2 separate regions of the Homo sapiens genome follow, and region 2 is linked to region 1. Evidence: fine-mapped expression QTL. A gene starts in region 1. The other region holds a variant in brackets. All regions are shown on one strand. Distances are between the middles of the regions. Region 1 holds the start of TRIM45 (tripartite motif containing 45). Region 2 has its middle 8.2 kb from the start of VTCN1.

What was found. PIP is the estimated chance that this variant, and not a neighbour inherited with it, causes the effect.
Region 2: its variant is fine-mapped to the expression of TRIM45 in prefrontal cortex (GTEx, PIP 0.97).

Annotation. Positions count from the first base shown.
Region 1 is chr1:117,117,007-117,125,162 of GRCh38, reverse strand. It overlaps TRIM45 (tripartite motif containing 45), which reads left to right and starts at 3,414. Exons shown (of 6, transcript NM_025188.4): 1 at 3,414-4,449; 2 at 6,396-7,129. The coding sequence starts at 3,962. RefSeq lists an enhancer at 2,980-3,149 and a silencer at 3,460-3,649.
Region 2 is chr1:117,215,046-117,223,201 of GRCh38, reverse strand. No RefSeq gene overlaps it. Among named protein-coding and RNA genes, the nearest start is that of VTCN1, 8.2 kb to the right of the region's middle. The variant C/T (reference allele first, on the strand shown) is at 3,347.

The DNA.
Region 1 (8,156 bases):
TTTAGGGAATAACTAAACAAGCAGTTTTATGAATCTATTGAAGAATGCAGATATTATCCTACAAAAATGGGGAGCTACTGAAAGTTTTAGAATGAAGACTGACTTGTATCATGTTTTTATATGTTTTTACAATTAATTTGGAAGAACTGTGTAGATCAAAAAAAATAAAGGGCAGGGATAATTCAGACACTATTGTAATACTTAAGGTGAGGGTGATAAAGAGCTATAGCATCTTAAAAAGTGTATGCAGTGAGGTGTTGGCAGTGGGGATGGAAAGAAATCGGTGTCTGCCTGGATATGGAACAAGAGAAAGGAGGCCAGCAGCACTATAAGGTTTCATGCAGGAGGGAAAGGAGAATGATGATACTCTGGAGAGAATCAAATAGGAAAATTCAGAGAGTGCAGTTCAGTGAGCAAAGAAGTTCAGTGAAGTTTAAGCTATGTGGGACTTGGTGATAGGAACATATTTGAGTGCAGATTTAGAAATCTATGTCAAAAGCTCAGGGGAGACATCAGTACTGGAAGCGTTGGTCTGGGAATCATCCACGTGAGGAAATGTAGACGCAAAGGTAGGAGATAAAGTGGAGGAAGGGGAACTAGTGAGGATGGAGGGTGTGAGAAGCAGCCCAAGAGACAGAAGGTTAGGAGAGTAGAGTATTTCAGAAGTCAAGGAGGAGGCAAGTTTTAAGGATGAGGAAGTACAAAAAATGGTAAATACTAAAGAGATTGCCTATTGAGAAAAGGCCAGCAATATGGTCACTCATGATCTACAAGAAAGTCTCAATAGGAAAGAGGGGAGGAATAAATCGGTGGTGATGGTTATAAAAAGATGATGAAAGCAGACAGTGAGACCACCCTTTTGAGAAATATAGGGGCGAGAACCACCACTATTAATACGTTGAAGGGGAGCTAGATCAAAAGACGATTTGCTTCCCCTTTCAGGACTTCATCAGAACTCTTGGCAGAAAAACTGACTGAAACATAGGAATAAGGTTTTGAGGAAGCAGGAGAGGTTGGGATAAAAAACAAAAATCTTGAGGAACTAATCTTGGCACTAAAGAATGGCAGTCAGGAGAGGTAAGAGAGGAGGTGTGAGGAATCATGGATTTTTTAAGTAGAAAGGCGAGGCAGTTCTTCAGACAACCTTGTTTTTCTCATCAATGGAAGGGAATTAGCTGCAGCATGTGTGAGGGATTTGATGCTTAATAAACTGAGAAAGGAAAGGTAGAGGTGGCCAGGCGCGGTGGCTCACGCCTGTAATCCCAGCGCTTTGGGAGGCCGAGGCGGGTGGATCACCTGAGGTCAGGAGTTCGAGAGGAGCCTGCCCAACATGGTGAAATCCAGTCTCTACTAAAAATACAAAAAATTAGCCAGGTGTGGTGGTGCATGCCTGTAATTCCAGCTACCTGGGAGGCTGAGGCAGGAGAATCGCTTGAACCCTGGAGGTGGAGGTTGCAGTGTGCCGAGATCCTGCCATTGCATTCCGGCCTAGGCAACAAGAGCAAAACTCAATCTCAAAAAAAGAAAAAAAAAAAAAGGGAAAGGTAGAGGTAGCCCGAATATAATCTTAGATATGGCATCATAAGGTTGTGTTCAAGTTCCAGATATGTTAACTTGGGCTGGCCATCCAAGACCTGGCAAGACCTCTTTGAGGCCATTTCCTTACAATATTGTTAAAGGTTAAATGAGATACTGCTAAATGAGATATTGCACGTGTAAATTATGAAGTACTTCTGAAACAAGAGAAGCTTGAAACTACTACCACAAGAAATGTGATACAGTATGAACAAGAGATGAAGTAAAGCACAGCCAAGCAGCAGGGAGGGTAAAGGTGAAGTTCAAAGCAAGAATATATAGCAAACCCAAGTCCACACAGTTTTTGTGACTTCCTCCAGCCTACTGGAGAGGCGAATGCCGATTTTGAGAGTAGATGCAAGAAGGACAAGAGGCTGAAAAAAATCTAGGTAAGGACTATTTAAAAATCTTTGGAGATATGCTTAACATTTGGAAATTACTTGCACATTTTATATAAAGGTGGCATTTGACTCATTGGCGTGTTATATTTTGGAAATGGCCAAACATTTCATTTTTATATTTTATAATGGTTTTTTTTTTTTTTTTCATATTTTGGGGTTAACTTTTTTTCAGATTCCATACTTTTAAAAGCTTAGGCTCCAGACACTATGCCTATAGCATGAAACAGATAATGAAGGAATCAAGTGAAACAGTCGCCCACTGGGTACAAATTAAGTAGGGAAGGTCATGAACAAAGAAAGCAGTGAGGGCCCAGTAGACAAGCTGACGCAACTGGAGATAACAACAGGTGGAGGGGAAAGGAGCAGCTGTTTCCATTTTTGGAATTTTGGAGAATCAGGAGACGCCTGGTAAGGCCAGAGAAGGTGGCCGTGTAATTATAAAGTTAAAGGGGTCGGACGTGTTCATCTTCCCAATTAGTTTTAAGCCCACAAAGGGCTTGTCCCTCATTGCCACCGTCCATTGTCTCACTGTGACCAGGCAGGAGCCCTCCGTGATTGACTGATAAAAACAGCGGGTCCAACTCGCTCAGCTCGTTTCTGTTACACAGGACTGTGGAATCCCGGGTGACATTCAACTCCTTAGGTCATCTGCACTCCCCCCGGACCGGAAAACAAAGCCTTCCCGAGCCCGACAAGGAGGGTGGCGCTCCCTGGCCCGGCCGAAGTAAGCCCTCCATTCGACACCTCGGCTCCACGGTCTCCCGAACCGGTCCCCGTAACGCGAGCCTGAGATGCCCTCACCCCCGAAAAATACCCAAAGTCGGGGAGCCGCGGGAGTGCTTGTACCCAGCACGCTAGGCCTGAGGGACCTGTGAGCTACAGTAAGCGCCTGAGGACAGAGGGGAGCCTCGCAGCCTCAAACCCGCGTGGAGGAGAAACGTCTGGCGCCCCCGAGCGGCCGAGACCTCGGGAGCCCGAAAAACGTCTCCCACTCCCAGCGCAGAGCCAACTGACAGTGCCATCCACCAATGGGAGAACCCAGTCTGCGTTCGTGGGACGAGTCCGAGGGCAGAAAGAAGGCCGTCCCGGCGCCAAATCAGCGTGGCTTTTTAAGAGGTCCTGAGGCCTCTCTGGTCACCACAGAGAGAGGGACAGTCCCTGTGAAACGGTGACGCTGACTACACTATGCCGCTCGCTCCGAGCCTTGGCCTTTTCCTCCCGCCGCACTCTAAGCCCTTCGGCCGCCCCGCCCACGGCCTTGTCAGGTCCCGCCCCCCGCGTGAGTGGACTGGCGAAGATGTGGAATTTCCAAAACTTATTGGATGCTTAGTGGCGTCACTCTGGAGGGCGGCGGGGCCCGGAGCGGCGAGGGCCGCCGCTCTCGGACGGTGATTGGACTCGCCGGAGTAGACCGGGCTGGGATTGGTGTGAGGAGGGGCCAGAGCCCGCGGGCGTCCCGGGCCGAGGCGCGGGAGAGGCGGTGGACACCGAGAAGCCCGCCGGCGGCTTGCAATTCCCTCACCCGGCGCGCGCCTTTCGCAGAGGGAAGGAGCAAGAGGGCCCCTACCTCATCGTGCGCGGGTGGGGTCGGCGCTTGTCGCGTGTGGCGCGCAGTGGGGCGGGCGGCGGGAGGGGGGTGGCAGTGGAGGGAGCGAGAGGTGCAGGGGTGACTTTGTTGGCAGCAGGACTAGCTGGAGAGCTAGACCTGGAAGCGCATCCGGGGAGGACTTGCGGGGCAGAGGAGGGCGTGGGCGTGTCTGGTGTGGGATGCAGTGGAAAGGAGGGGGCCCTCCTGAGTAGATCTGTGGGTGATTCCTTCGAGGACGCCTCGTCTTCCCGTCTGCCCTTTTATTTGTCAGCGAGGGAGTCCCCATGGTCTCTGTTCAAGTTCTGGAGACTTTCTCTTTGGGTGGGCTTAATCACCTGCTACTAAATCGTAGAACTGCCCAGGGCCCTTTCTAATATTGGTCACAAACGTGAGGAGTATGTCAGAAAACAGAAAACCGCTGCTGGGCTTTGTAAGCAAACTCACTAGTGGGACTGCACTTGGGAACTCAGGCAAGACTCACTGCCCCCTGTGCTTGGGGCTTTTCAAAGCCCCCAGGCTCTTGCCTTGTTTGCATACAGTTTGCACCACGTGTCTGGAGCAGCTGGAGCCCTTCTCAGTAGTGGACATCCGAGGGGGAGACTCTGACACAAGCTCTGAGGGGTCAATATTCCAGGAACTCAAGCCACGAAGTCTGCAGTCGCAGATCGGCATCCTTTGTCCTGTATGTGATGCTCAGGTGGACCTGCCCATGGGTGGAGTGAAGGCTTTAACCATAGACCACCTGGCCGTGAATGATGTGATGCTGGAGAGCCTACGTGGGGAAGGCCAGGGCCTGGTGTGTGACCTGTGCAACGACAGGGAAGTAGAGAAGAGGTGTCAGACCTGCAAAGCCAACCTCTGCCACTTCTGCTGCCAGGCTCATAGGTAAAGATGGGACACTCCATCAGGTGTAGCTTAAGAGCAGATTACAAAGAGGTGTCAAGACAAATCCCTCGGTGAGCAGATGAAAAGGAAAGCCTTCTCAAATACCGTGGAAGGTCAAAGAGCAATATAACAATGCAATAGCAAATACTCCAGTACAACAGTTAACCCGGTTAGCCTAATATAGTACCTAATATATAGCCTAATATAGCAATAGCAATAAACCCTTTCAATTTACAAAGTGCAGCTACAGTTTCCTTCAGTCATTCGTGTAGTGAATAATTGTACTGGGTGCTGGAGAAACAGGAGAATGAATATAACAGCATAGATCCTGTTCTTGATCTCCTTCGATCTTGCAACTCTTACAGAAAAGCAGGCCCTGTTTTCGCCCCCATTTATTAATTGGGGAAACAAGCTCAGCAATATTATGTGATTTGCCAAGGTCCTACAGTTGGTAAGTGTGTAACAGAACTGAGTATTAAATCCAGATCATTTTGACTACATTCCAGTAACCCATGCTGTGCTCCTAGAATAGGTGATGATGATTGGCCGGACCTCAGCTTTTGCTTTGTGTACCTTAGAGTTACTCTGGAGCTTGGTGAGGTGGGCTGGTAGGTGTTAATTGGGGTGCAGACTATGTGTTTTATGGCATTTGGTGAATAGTTTGTCAGATGGATCACTTTTGTCCCTTCGTACTCTTACCTTACCCCATCCTAGGACACCAGAATATAAAATGACCACAGTTTTAGGATTAGCCTAAAATAGGTTTCGGGTTCTACTTCCATTTGTTTTCTGGCTACACTAACAGAACAAGTTTGTAGACTTCACTCTATTTTTAACTTGTAATTATGTGATAGTCCCTGCGACTGTCTTGCTGCCAGCCAAACCAGCTAACCCTATTTTCTCTGCAGCCACTCTTCTGGTGCCAGAATAGGCATATAAGCTTCAAATTGATACAATGCTAATGGAGGAACTCTGAACAGTCACCATGTTTTCCTAAGGATTTCCCTACATCTCTAGAGGGCTACTATAGGAAAGGAATTAGAAAGAGAGCTTTGATTCTACTAACCATTGGTTTCACACTTTCTTTTCTCTTTTTTTTTTTTTCTGAGATGGAGTCTGGCTCTAGTCGCCCAGGCTGGAGTGCAATAACACAATCTCCACTCACTGCAACCTCCACCTCCTAGGTTCAAGCGATTCTCCTGCCTCAGCCTCCCCAGTAGCTGGGATTACAGGCACATGCCACCACGCCTGGCTAATTTTTTGTATTTTTAGTAGAGACAGGGTTTCACCATGTTGGCCAGGCTGGTCTCAAACTCCTGACCTCAGTTGATCCGCCCACCTCAGCCTCCCAAAATGCTGGGGTTACAGGCGTGAGCCACCGCGCCCGGCCGGTTTCACGCTTTCTAATGATGTTGACGATGTCTCTTGAAAAAAATTCTAGCCTGCTGATTTGGGTGATACAGGTCAACAGAAATGCTTCACCAAAATCTTAGATGCAAGCTAGATGAGACTTGGTGTCTGCTTTTTAATTGCTTGGACTTTATTGCTGTGTTATCTGGCATGGTTTCTGTTTCTTGATGCTGGTTTTCTGCCATGCCCTCACTGCTAGCTTACCTTAGGAAGCCGACTGTGACTCTTGTCTAAACTCTTTGGGAAAGTTCTAGCATGCAGTCATAGTCTTGCAACCTTCTGCATAGGCATGTAGCCAGCCAGAGCCCTAGTCTGTTCACACGTTATTCTATACAACAGCTCTTTCAGGTAGGTATTGTCCCCACTGTACAGATGAGAAACTGGAATCAGAGAGGTTCATGCAATTAGAGATTAGAGCAAGGAATTGAAATCAGGTTTGTTTAACTTCAGATCCTGTGCTCCTAAAATCTCTCTGCCCAACTATTCCCAACAGAATTATCCCCTTATTTCCTGTTACTGATTCTGTTTGCCCCTAGGCGGCAGAAGAAAACGACTTACCACACCATGGTGGACCTAAAAGACTTGAAAGGCTACAGCCGGATTGGGAAGCCCATCCTGTGTCCTGTTCACCCTGCAGAGGAACTGAGGCTGTTCTGTGAGTTCTGTGACCGGCCCGTGTGCCAGGATTGTGTGGTGGGGGAGCATCGGGAACACCCCTGTGACTTCACCAGCAATGTCATCCACAAGCATGGGGACTCTGTGTGGGAGCTCCTCAAAGGTACTCAGCCCCACGTGGAGGCCCTGGAGGAAGCCCTGGCTCAGATCCACATAATAAACAGTGCCCTCCAGAAGCGAGTGGAGGCAGTGGCAGCTGATGTCCGGACATTCTCGGAGGGCTACATTAAGGCCATTGAGGAGCATCGGGACAAGCTGCTGAAGCAGCTGGAAGACATACGGGCCCAGAAGGAAAATTCCCTGCAGCTGCAGAAGGCCCAGCTGGAACAGTTACTGGCAGACATGCGGACTGGAGTGGAGTTCACCGAGCACTTGCTGACCAGCGGCTCAGACTTGGAGATCCTCATCACCAAGAGGGTGGTGGTAGAACGGCTCAGGAAGCTGAACAAAGTTCAATATAGCACCCGTCCTGGAGTAAATGATAAGATACGCTTCTGTCCTCAGGAGAAAGCAGGCCAGTGCCGTGGCTATGAAATTTATGGTACGATTAATACCAAAGAGGTTGATCCAGCCAAATGTGTCCTACAAGGAGAAGGTAGGAAGGCATTTCCCATTGACATTGAGAGGGCAGTGGACAGGGAGGTGGTGTGTGAAGATTGGTGGCTTGTTCTGCTAGGAAGCATGCCCTACTGACCAGGTTACCAAAGGTGGGGAGATAAACTGATCTGAAAGACAGTGACCCCCACCTTTGCCCTTTCTGGTTTGTTCTGGCTAGGGTACAGTTAATACAGGAGTGAGGCTTGACCCTTTTCCAGTTCAGAGAAGTAATAATGGCTGAGAAACACACAGATCATGTTTTGTTTCTATCAGATGGCAGAACAGAGACAGTGCCCGTTGGAGGTAACAGCAGTGACTAGGGCCAGGTGAAATTCTGCCTGCTCAGAGAGGAGCATGGCAGGCCCTGGATTCCTAGATCAAGTTCTGAAGGGAGTTTCAGAGGAATGAGGAAGATGAGATTACGGTTTCCTTTCCTTTAGGCCCTTTTTGGTTCACATCAACTTTACTGGCATTTAAAAGGATATGGTAGGTGTTTCATTTAATTGGGGGAAAAAATGGTTTTTTTTAACGAGTGTTCCCTTTCTAATGGAAGCATATTATTAAAACATATGTTTCACAGGTCAGTAGGTCAGTCCTGATAGGAAGATTGCATCTTAATGACACAGGCATTCTTAACTGTTTGGAAGCCATAGATCTCTTTGAGAATGTTCTCTCCTACAGAAACACCCAGTAACTTGTGCATACAATTCCAGATTTTTAGACTCTTCATAAGCCTTTCCATAGACCTCATAGTAGTTCATGAACCTCAGGTTAAGAAACCCTGTTTCATCTGAATGCTGGAGTAGGGGCTGTAGCTACTGGATATCCCCCCAGTACCTTGGCATGAGCTACCAAGTTGCAGAGGATCTCAAAACATGGAGGGTCGTGAGGCTGGTCAGCTGTACTCCCTGCCTAGCCCAGCAGGATCTGGAGCTTAGGGAGGGTGGTTTTGGGGTTACTATCCTCTCTCACAGGGTCTAGAGGTTTTCTTTAAATACCTCGGTCAGTCGTGAGTATTTTTAAAG
Region 2 (8,156 bases), 98 kb before region 1:
AGGAATTGCCACACTGACTTCCACAATGGTTGAACTAGTTTAGAGTCTCACCAATGGTGTAAAAGTGTTCCTATTTCTCCACATCCTCTCCAGCACCTGTTGTTTCCTGACTTTTTAATGATTGCCATTCTAACTGGTGTGAGATGGTATCTCATTGTGGTTTTGATTTGCATTTCTCTGATGGCCAGTGATGATGAGCATTTTTTCATGTGTCTTTTGGCTGCATAAATGTCTTCTTTTGAGAAGTGTCTGTTCATATCCTTCACCCACTTTTTGATGGGGTTGTTTGTTTTTTTCTTGTAAATTTGTTTGAGTTCATTGTAGATTCTGGATATTAGCCCTTTGTCAGACAAGTAGATTGCAAAAATTTTCTCCCATTCTGTAGGTTGCCTGTTCACTCTGATGGTAGTTTCTTTTGCTATGCAGAAGCTCTTTAGTTTAATGAGATCCCATTTGTAAATTTTGGCTTTTGTTGCCATTGCTTTTGGTGTTTTAGACATGAAGCCCTTGCCCATGCCTATGTCCTGAATGGTATTGCCTAGGTTTTCTTCTAGGGTTTTTATGGTTTTAGGTCTAACATTTAAGTCTTTAATCCATCTTGAATTAATTTTTGTATAAGGTGTAAGGAAGGGATCCAGTTTCAGCTTTCTACATATGGCTAGCCAGTTTTCCCAGCACCATTTATTAAACAGGGAATCCTTTCCCCATTTCTTGTTTTTGTCAGGTTTGTCAAAGATCAGATGGTTGTAGATATGCAGCATTATTTCTGAGGGCTCTGTTCTTTTCCATTGGTCTATATCTCTGTTTTGGTACCAGTACCATGCTGTTTCGGTTACTGTAGCATTGTAGTATAGTTTGAAGTCAGGTAGCGTGATGCCTCCAGCTTTGTTCTTTTGGCTTAGGATTCACTTGGCAATGCGGGCTCTTTTTTGGTTCCATATGAACTTTAAAGTAGTTTTTTCCAATTCTGTGAAGAAAGTCCCTGGTAGCTTGATGGGGATGGCATTGAATCTATAAATTACCTTGGGCAGTATGGCCATTTTCACAATATTGATTCTTCCTACCCATGAGCATGGAATGTTCTTCCATTTGTTTGTATCCTCTTTTATTTCATTGAGCAGTGGTTTGTAGTTCTCCTTGAAGAGGTCCTTCACATCCCTTGTAAGTTGGATTCCTAGGTATTTTATTCTCTTTGAAGTAATTGTGAATGGGAGTTCACTCATGATTTGGCTCTCTGTTTGTCTGTTATTGATGTATAAGAATGCTTGTGATTTTTGCACATTGATTTTGTATCCTGAGACTTTGCTGAAGTTGCCTATCAGTTTTAGGAGATTTTGGGCTGAGATGATGGGGTTTTCTAGATATACAATCAGGTCATCTGCAAACAGGGACAATTTGACTTCCTCTTTTCCTAATTGAATACCCTTTATTTCCTTCTCCTGCCTGATTGCCCTGGCCAGAACTTCCAACACTATGTTGAATAGGAGTGGTGAGAGAGGGCACCCCTGTCTTGTGCCAGTTTTCAAAGGGAATGCTTCCAGTTTTTGCCAATTCAGTATGATATTGGCTGTGGGTTTGTCATAAATAGCTCTTATTATTTTGAGACACATCCCATCAATACCTAATTTATTGAGAGTTTTTAGCATGAAGCATTGTTGAATTTTGTCAAAGGCCTTTTCTGCATCTACTGAGATAATCATGTGGTTTTTGTCTTCGGTTCTGTTTATATGCTGGATTATGTTTATTGATTGCATATGTTGAACCAGCCTTGCATTCCAGGGATGAAGCCCATTTGATCATGGTGGGTAAGCTTTTTGATGTGCTGCTGGATTTGGTTTGCCAGTATTTTATTGAGGATTTTGCATCGATGTTCATCAGGGATATTGGTCTAAAATTCTCTTTTTTTGTTGTGTCTCTGCCAGGCTTTGGTATCAGAATGATACTGGCCTCATAAAATGATTTAGGGAGGATTCCCTCTTTTTCTATTGATTGGAGTAGTTTCAGAAGGAATGGTACCAGCTCCTCCTTGTACCTCTGGTAGAATTTGGCTGTGAATCCATCTGGTCCTGGACTTTTTTTGTTGGTAAGCTATTAATTATTGCCTCAATTTCAGAGCCTGTTATTGGTCTATTCAGAGATTCAACTTCTTCCTGGTTTAGTCTTGGGAGGGTATATGTGTCCAGGAATTTATCCATTTCTTCTAGATTTTCTAGTTTATTTGCATTAGAGGTGTTTATAGAAGTCTCTGATGGTAGTTTGTATTTCTGTGCGATCGGTGGTGATATCCCCTTTATCATTTTTTATTGTGTCTATTTGATTCTTCTGTCTTTTCTTCTTTATTAGTCTTGCTAGCGGTCTATCAATTTTGTTGATCTTTTCAAAAAACCAGCTCCTGGATTCATTGATTTTTTGAAGGGTTTTTTGTGTCTCTATTTCCTTCAGTTCTGCTCTGATCTTAGTTATTTCTTGCCTTCTGCTAGCTTTTGAATGTGTTTGCTCTTGCTTCTCTAGTACTTTTAATTGTGATGTTAGGGTGTCAATTTTAGATATTTCCTGCTTTCTCTTGTGGGCATTTAGTGCTATAAATTTCCCTCTACACACTGCTTTGAATGTGTCCCAGAGATTCTGGTATGTTGTGTCTTTGTTCTCGTTGGTTTCAAAGAACATATTTACTTCTGCCTTCTTTTCGTTATGTATCCAGTAGTCATTCAGGAGCAGGTTGTTCAGTTTCCATGTAGTTGAGTGGTTTTGAGTGAGTTTCTTAATGCTGAGTTCTAGTTTGATTGCACTGTAGTCTGAGAGACAGTTTGTTATAATTTCTGTTCTTTTACTTTTGCTGAGGAGTGCTTTACTTCCAACTATGTGGTCAATTTTGGAATAGGTGTGGTGTGGTGCTGAAAAGAATGTATATTCTGTTGATTTGGGGTGGAGAGTTCTGTAGATGTCTATTAGGTTGCTTTGGTGCAGAGCTGAGTTCAATTCCTGAATATCCTTGTTAACTTTCTGTCTCATTGATCTGTCTAAGGTTAACAGTGGGATGTTAAAGTCTCCCATTATTATTGTGTGGGAGACTAAGTCTCTTTGTAGGTCTCTAAGGACTTGCTTTATGAATCTGGGTGCTCCTGTATTGGGTGCATTTATATTTAGGATAGTTAGCTCTTCTTGTTGAATTTATCTCTTTACCATTATGTAATGGCCTTCTTTGTCTCTTTTGATCTTTGTTGGTTTAAAGTCTGTTTTATCAGAGACTAGGATTGCAACCTCTGCCTTTTTTTGTTTTCCATTTGCTTGGTAGATCTTCCTCCATCCCTTTATTTTGAGCCTATGTGTGTCTCTGCATGTGAGA[C/T]GGGTTTCCTGAATACAGCACACTGATGGGTCTTGACTCTTTATCCAATTTGCCAATCTCTATCTTTTAATTGGAGCATTTAGCCCATTTACATTTAAGGTTAATATTGTTATGTGTGAATTTGATCCTGTCATTATGATGTTAGCTGGTTATTTTGCTCATTAGTTGATGCAGTTTCTTCCTAGCCTCGATGGTCTTTACAATTTGGCATGTTTTTGCAGTGGCTGGTACCAGTTGTTCCTTTCCATGTTTAGTGCTTCCTTCAGGAGCTCTTGTAGGGCAGGCCTGATGGTGACAAAATCTCTCAGCATTTACTTGTCTGTAAAGTATTTTATTTCTCCTTCACTTATGAAGCTTAGTTTGGCTGGATATGCAATTCTGGGCTGAAAATTCTTTTCTTTAAGAATGTTGAATATTGGCCCCCACTCTCTTCTGGCTTGTAGAGTTTCTGCTGAGAGATCAGCTGTTAGTCTGATGGGCTTCCCTTTGTGGGTAACCCGACCTTTCTCTCTGGCTGCCCTTAACATTTTGTCCTTCATTTCAACTTTGGTGAATCTGACAATTATGTGTCTTGGAGTTTCTCTTCTCGAGGAGTATCTTTGTGGCGTTCTCTGTATTTCCTGGATTTGAATGTTGGCCTGCCTTGCTAGATTGGAGAAGTTCTCCTGGATAATATCCTGCAGAGTGTTTTCCAACTTGGTTCCATTCTCCCCGTCAGTTTTAGGTACACCAATCAGATATAGATTTGGTCTTTTCACATAGTCCCATACTTCTTGGAGGCTTTGTTTGTTTCTTTTTATTCTTTTTTCTCTAAACTTCTCTTTTCATTTCATTTCATTCATTTGATCTTCCATCACTGATACCCTTTCTTCCAGTTGATTGAATCTGCTCCTGAGGCTTGTGCATTCATCATGTAATTCTCATGCCGTGGTTTTCAGCTCCTTCAGGTCCTTTAAGGACTTCTCTGCATTGGTTATTTTAGTTAGCTATTCATCTAATCTTTTTTCAAGGTTTTTAACTTCTTTGCCATGGGTTCGAACTTCCTCCTTTAGCTCGGAGTAGTTCGATCGTCTGAAGCCTTCTTCCCTCAACTCAACTCAAAGTCAACTCTCAACTCAAAGTCATTCTCCATCCAGCTTTGTTCTGTTGCTGGTGAGGAGCTGCATTCCTTTGGAGGAGGAGAGGTGCTCTGATTTTTAGAGTTTCCAGTTTTTCTGCTGTGATTTTCCCCATCTTTGTGGTTTTATCTACCTTTGGTCTTTGATGATGGTGACATACAGATGGGGTTTTGGTGTGGATGTCCTTTCTGTTTGTTAGTTTTCCTTCTAACAGTCAGGACCCTCAGCTGCAGGTCTGTTGGAGTTTTCTGAAGGTCTACTCCAGAACCCGTTTGCCTGGGTATCAGCAGCGGAGGCTGCAGAACAGCAGATATTGGTGAACAGCAAATGTTGCTGCCTGATCGTTCCTCTGGAAGTTTTGTTCCATAGGAGTACCCAGCCGTGTGAGGTGTCAGTCTGCCCCTACTGGGGCGTGCCTCCCAGTTAGGCTACTCAGGGGTCTGGGACCCACTTGAGGAGACAGTCTGTCCGTTCTCAGATCTCAAGCTGCGTGCTGGGAGAACCACTACTCTCTTCAAAGCTGTCAGACAGGGACATTTAAGTCTGCAGAGGTTTCTGCTGCCTTTTGTTTGGCTGTGCCCTGCCCCCAGAGGTGGAGTCTACAGAGGCAGGCAGGCCTCCTTGAGCTGCGGTGGGCTCCACCCAGTTCGAGCTTCCCAGCTGCTTTGTTTACCTACTTAAGCCTTGGCAATGGAGGGTGCCCCTCCCCCAGCCTTGCTGCTTCCTTGCAGTTTGATCTCAGACTGCTGTGCTAGCAATGAGCGAGGCTCCGTGGGCATAGGACCCTCCGAGCCAGGCACAGGATATAATCTCCTGGTGTGCCGTTTGCTAAGACCATTGGAAAAGCACAGTATTAGGATGGGAGTGACCCGATTTTCCAGGTGCCATCTGTCACCTCTTTCCTTGGCTAGGAAAGGGAATTCCCTGACCCCTTGTGCTTCCCGGGTGAGGAGATGCCTCGCCCTGCTTTGGCTCATGCTCAGTGCACTGCACCCACTGTCCTGCACCCACTGTCCAACAATCCCCAGTGCGATGAACCCGGTACCTCAGTTGGAAATGCAGAAATCACCCGTGTTCTGCGTCGCTCACACTGGCAGCTGTAGACTGGAGCTGTTCCTATTTGGCCATCTTGGCTCCACCCCAAATGGTGTCCTTATAAAAAGAAAAAGTTCGGACACAGAGGCAGATGCATAGAGGAAAGATGATATGAAGAGATATAAAGAGAAGATGGCCATCTACAAGCCAAAGAGAGAGGTGTGGAACAGATCCTTTCTCGCAGGCTCATGCCTGTAATCCAAGCACTTTGGGAGGCTGAGGCGGGCAGATCACTTGAGGCCAGGAGTTCAAGACAACCTGACCAAAACCTGTGAAATGTGGTGAAAACCAGTCTCTACTAAAAATATAAAAATTAGCTGGGCGTGGTCATGCACACCTGTAGTGCCAGCTACTCAGGAGACTGAGATGAGAGGATCACCTGATCCCAGAAGGTGGAGGTTGCAGTGAGCTGAGATCATGCCACTGCACTGCAGCCTGGGCAACAGAGTGAGACCCTGTCTCAAATAAATAAATCAGTGTGGGTTCTGCTGACCAGGGATTCCACTCAGGCCCCAGGACATTCTGACTTAGTGATAACAGTAGGGGTCACACAAATTTGTGAACTGGTAAATCAATAGGCAGGGCTGCTAGGAATCGATGCCTGAGGGCTTCTGGCTGAAGGATGAGGAAGGAGGAATGGAGAGGAAGCATAGCATCTGCCTTAGATACTGGTCCTCTGCCTGGCCAGTGACGAAGCAATCAGCCCTTCCCTTATATGGAGGCCCTAGTAACTAGTGGAAGAAAGTCAAGGTCTCAGACAAAGTGATAGCTCGTTAATATTTCACCAGATGTCAGCATCCCTTTCAATTAGCCGTTTGAAGTTTGCTATATTAAGACTACAAGGTCTGCTCTTCCCAGCTCTGCAAAATATTATAAGATCTCTTCTCCTTTAGCAGGATTCCAAATTCCTGCTAATGACAAGGTGTTTATCAGAATTGAGACTACCTTTGCAGAAATTATAACAGTGAGAAAATTATGGCAGTTGGGGAGATCTGATCTAGCCAACTCATTTCTGGCCTTTAGCCTTCAAGCTATACTTAATTATTACTGGGCTTGGGCCAAGCTAATTTTGGGAGACATTTAGTTTATAGTTTAAGTGAGAATAGCCCTTCCGCCAAACTTAACTGCCTTTGTAAAGCTAATGAGAGACCACCAGGCTAGGAGGATAGGGGAGCCTGAATTCTGCTAAGGTGTAGACATAAACAATTGCCAGCCATTACTCCAGAAGTCACAATGACACAGGATTTTTCTTGATCACTCTGCCAGTTGGAGAGCTCCTGCCAGCAATGCCCCTGCCCAGGCCTTGTTCAGGCCCAACCCTTTGATTGTCAGCATGACCTCATTTTTTTTGGACATGGGACTGGTGAAGGGCAGCTGCCCCATGCAACGGAAAGCAGTGGTGGTGCCAAGTTTGCCCCAGAGCTGCTGGCGAGAGTGGGGCAAGGAAATGACAGAGCTGTTAACATGCCACTGTCCACTAGGCAGCAGAAGCCGGGACTATAAGAGCTAATTAGCATGCTGTAACACCCCCTCTGGGGCTTTGGGGTCATGGACACCCCTGCCTAGGTGCCACTGCATTCCCCTTGTCTGGATGCCAGAGACCACCAGGGGAGTGGCTTGCAACATGCCTGGTCCAGTCGCAAGCACAGCACAGAGCCTGCTTCTGTGCCAGCACTTGGAACAACCGGCTAGGTCCACATTCACTCATGGGCGGGTGCTCTTCCTATCAGAGCCAGAATGTGCTGTGATTCCAAGGAAATGTAAGCCTTATACGCAGGAAAATATGCAGCTACACAATGAGAAAACAGAGCTCCAGGTGACTGGGCTATTTAAATAATTTTTTAAAAAAATTCATAGGCCGGGCGTGGTGGCTCACGCCTGTAATCCCAGCAGTTTGGGAGGCCGAGGCGGGCGGATCACGAGGTCAGGAGATCGAGACCATCCCGGCTAAAACGGTGAAACCCCGTCTCTACTAAAAATACAAAAAAATTAGCCGGGCGTAGTGGCGGGCGCCTGTAGTCCCAGCTACTTGGGAGGCTGAGGCAGGAGAATGGCGTGAACCCGGGAGGCGGAGCTTGCAGTGAGCCGAGATCCCGCCACTGCACTCCAGCCTGGGCGACAGAGTGAGACTCCGTCTCAAAAAAAAAAAAAAAAAAAAAAAAATTCATAAGACATTTTGGTTCCAGATACATTAAGTAATCTCTGTCTCTCTCTTTCCCCAAGATCAACAAGGAGAGAATAGATTTTGTGCTTATCTCCTACGTCTGCTTTACCTTTGTCCTAATCATAAATTGTTCCTCTATCTCAAATGCAACTTGTTCTCTGCTGCCTCTAATAGTGTCAATCCAGCTCAGAAGACATCTCCTCTGGAAAATGACTGATCACACCCCAAGTTGATCCCTGCTTACTCATCCATCAAATGTTACTGAGTGCTTTTTATGCCTGGCACGGTGCTAGGACCTGATAACAAAAAAAGATGAACGAGGCCTAGTTTTTACCCTCCAAGAGCTCACAGACTAGCAATGAGATAGATGCATAAATGGAAAATAGTACCATTACTGTGTGCTGTGAAAGAAAAATGTACATTTATCCAACAA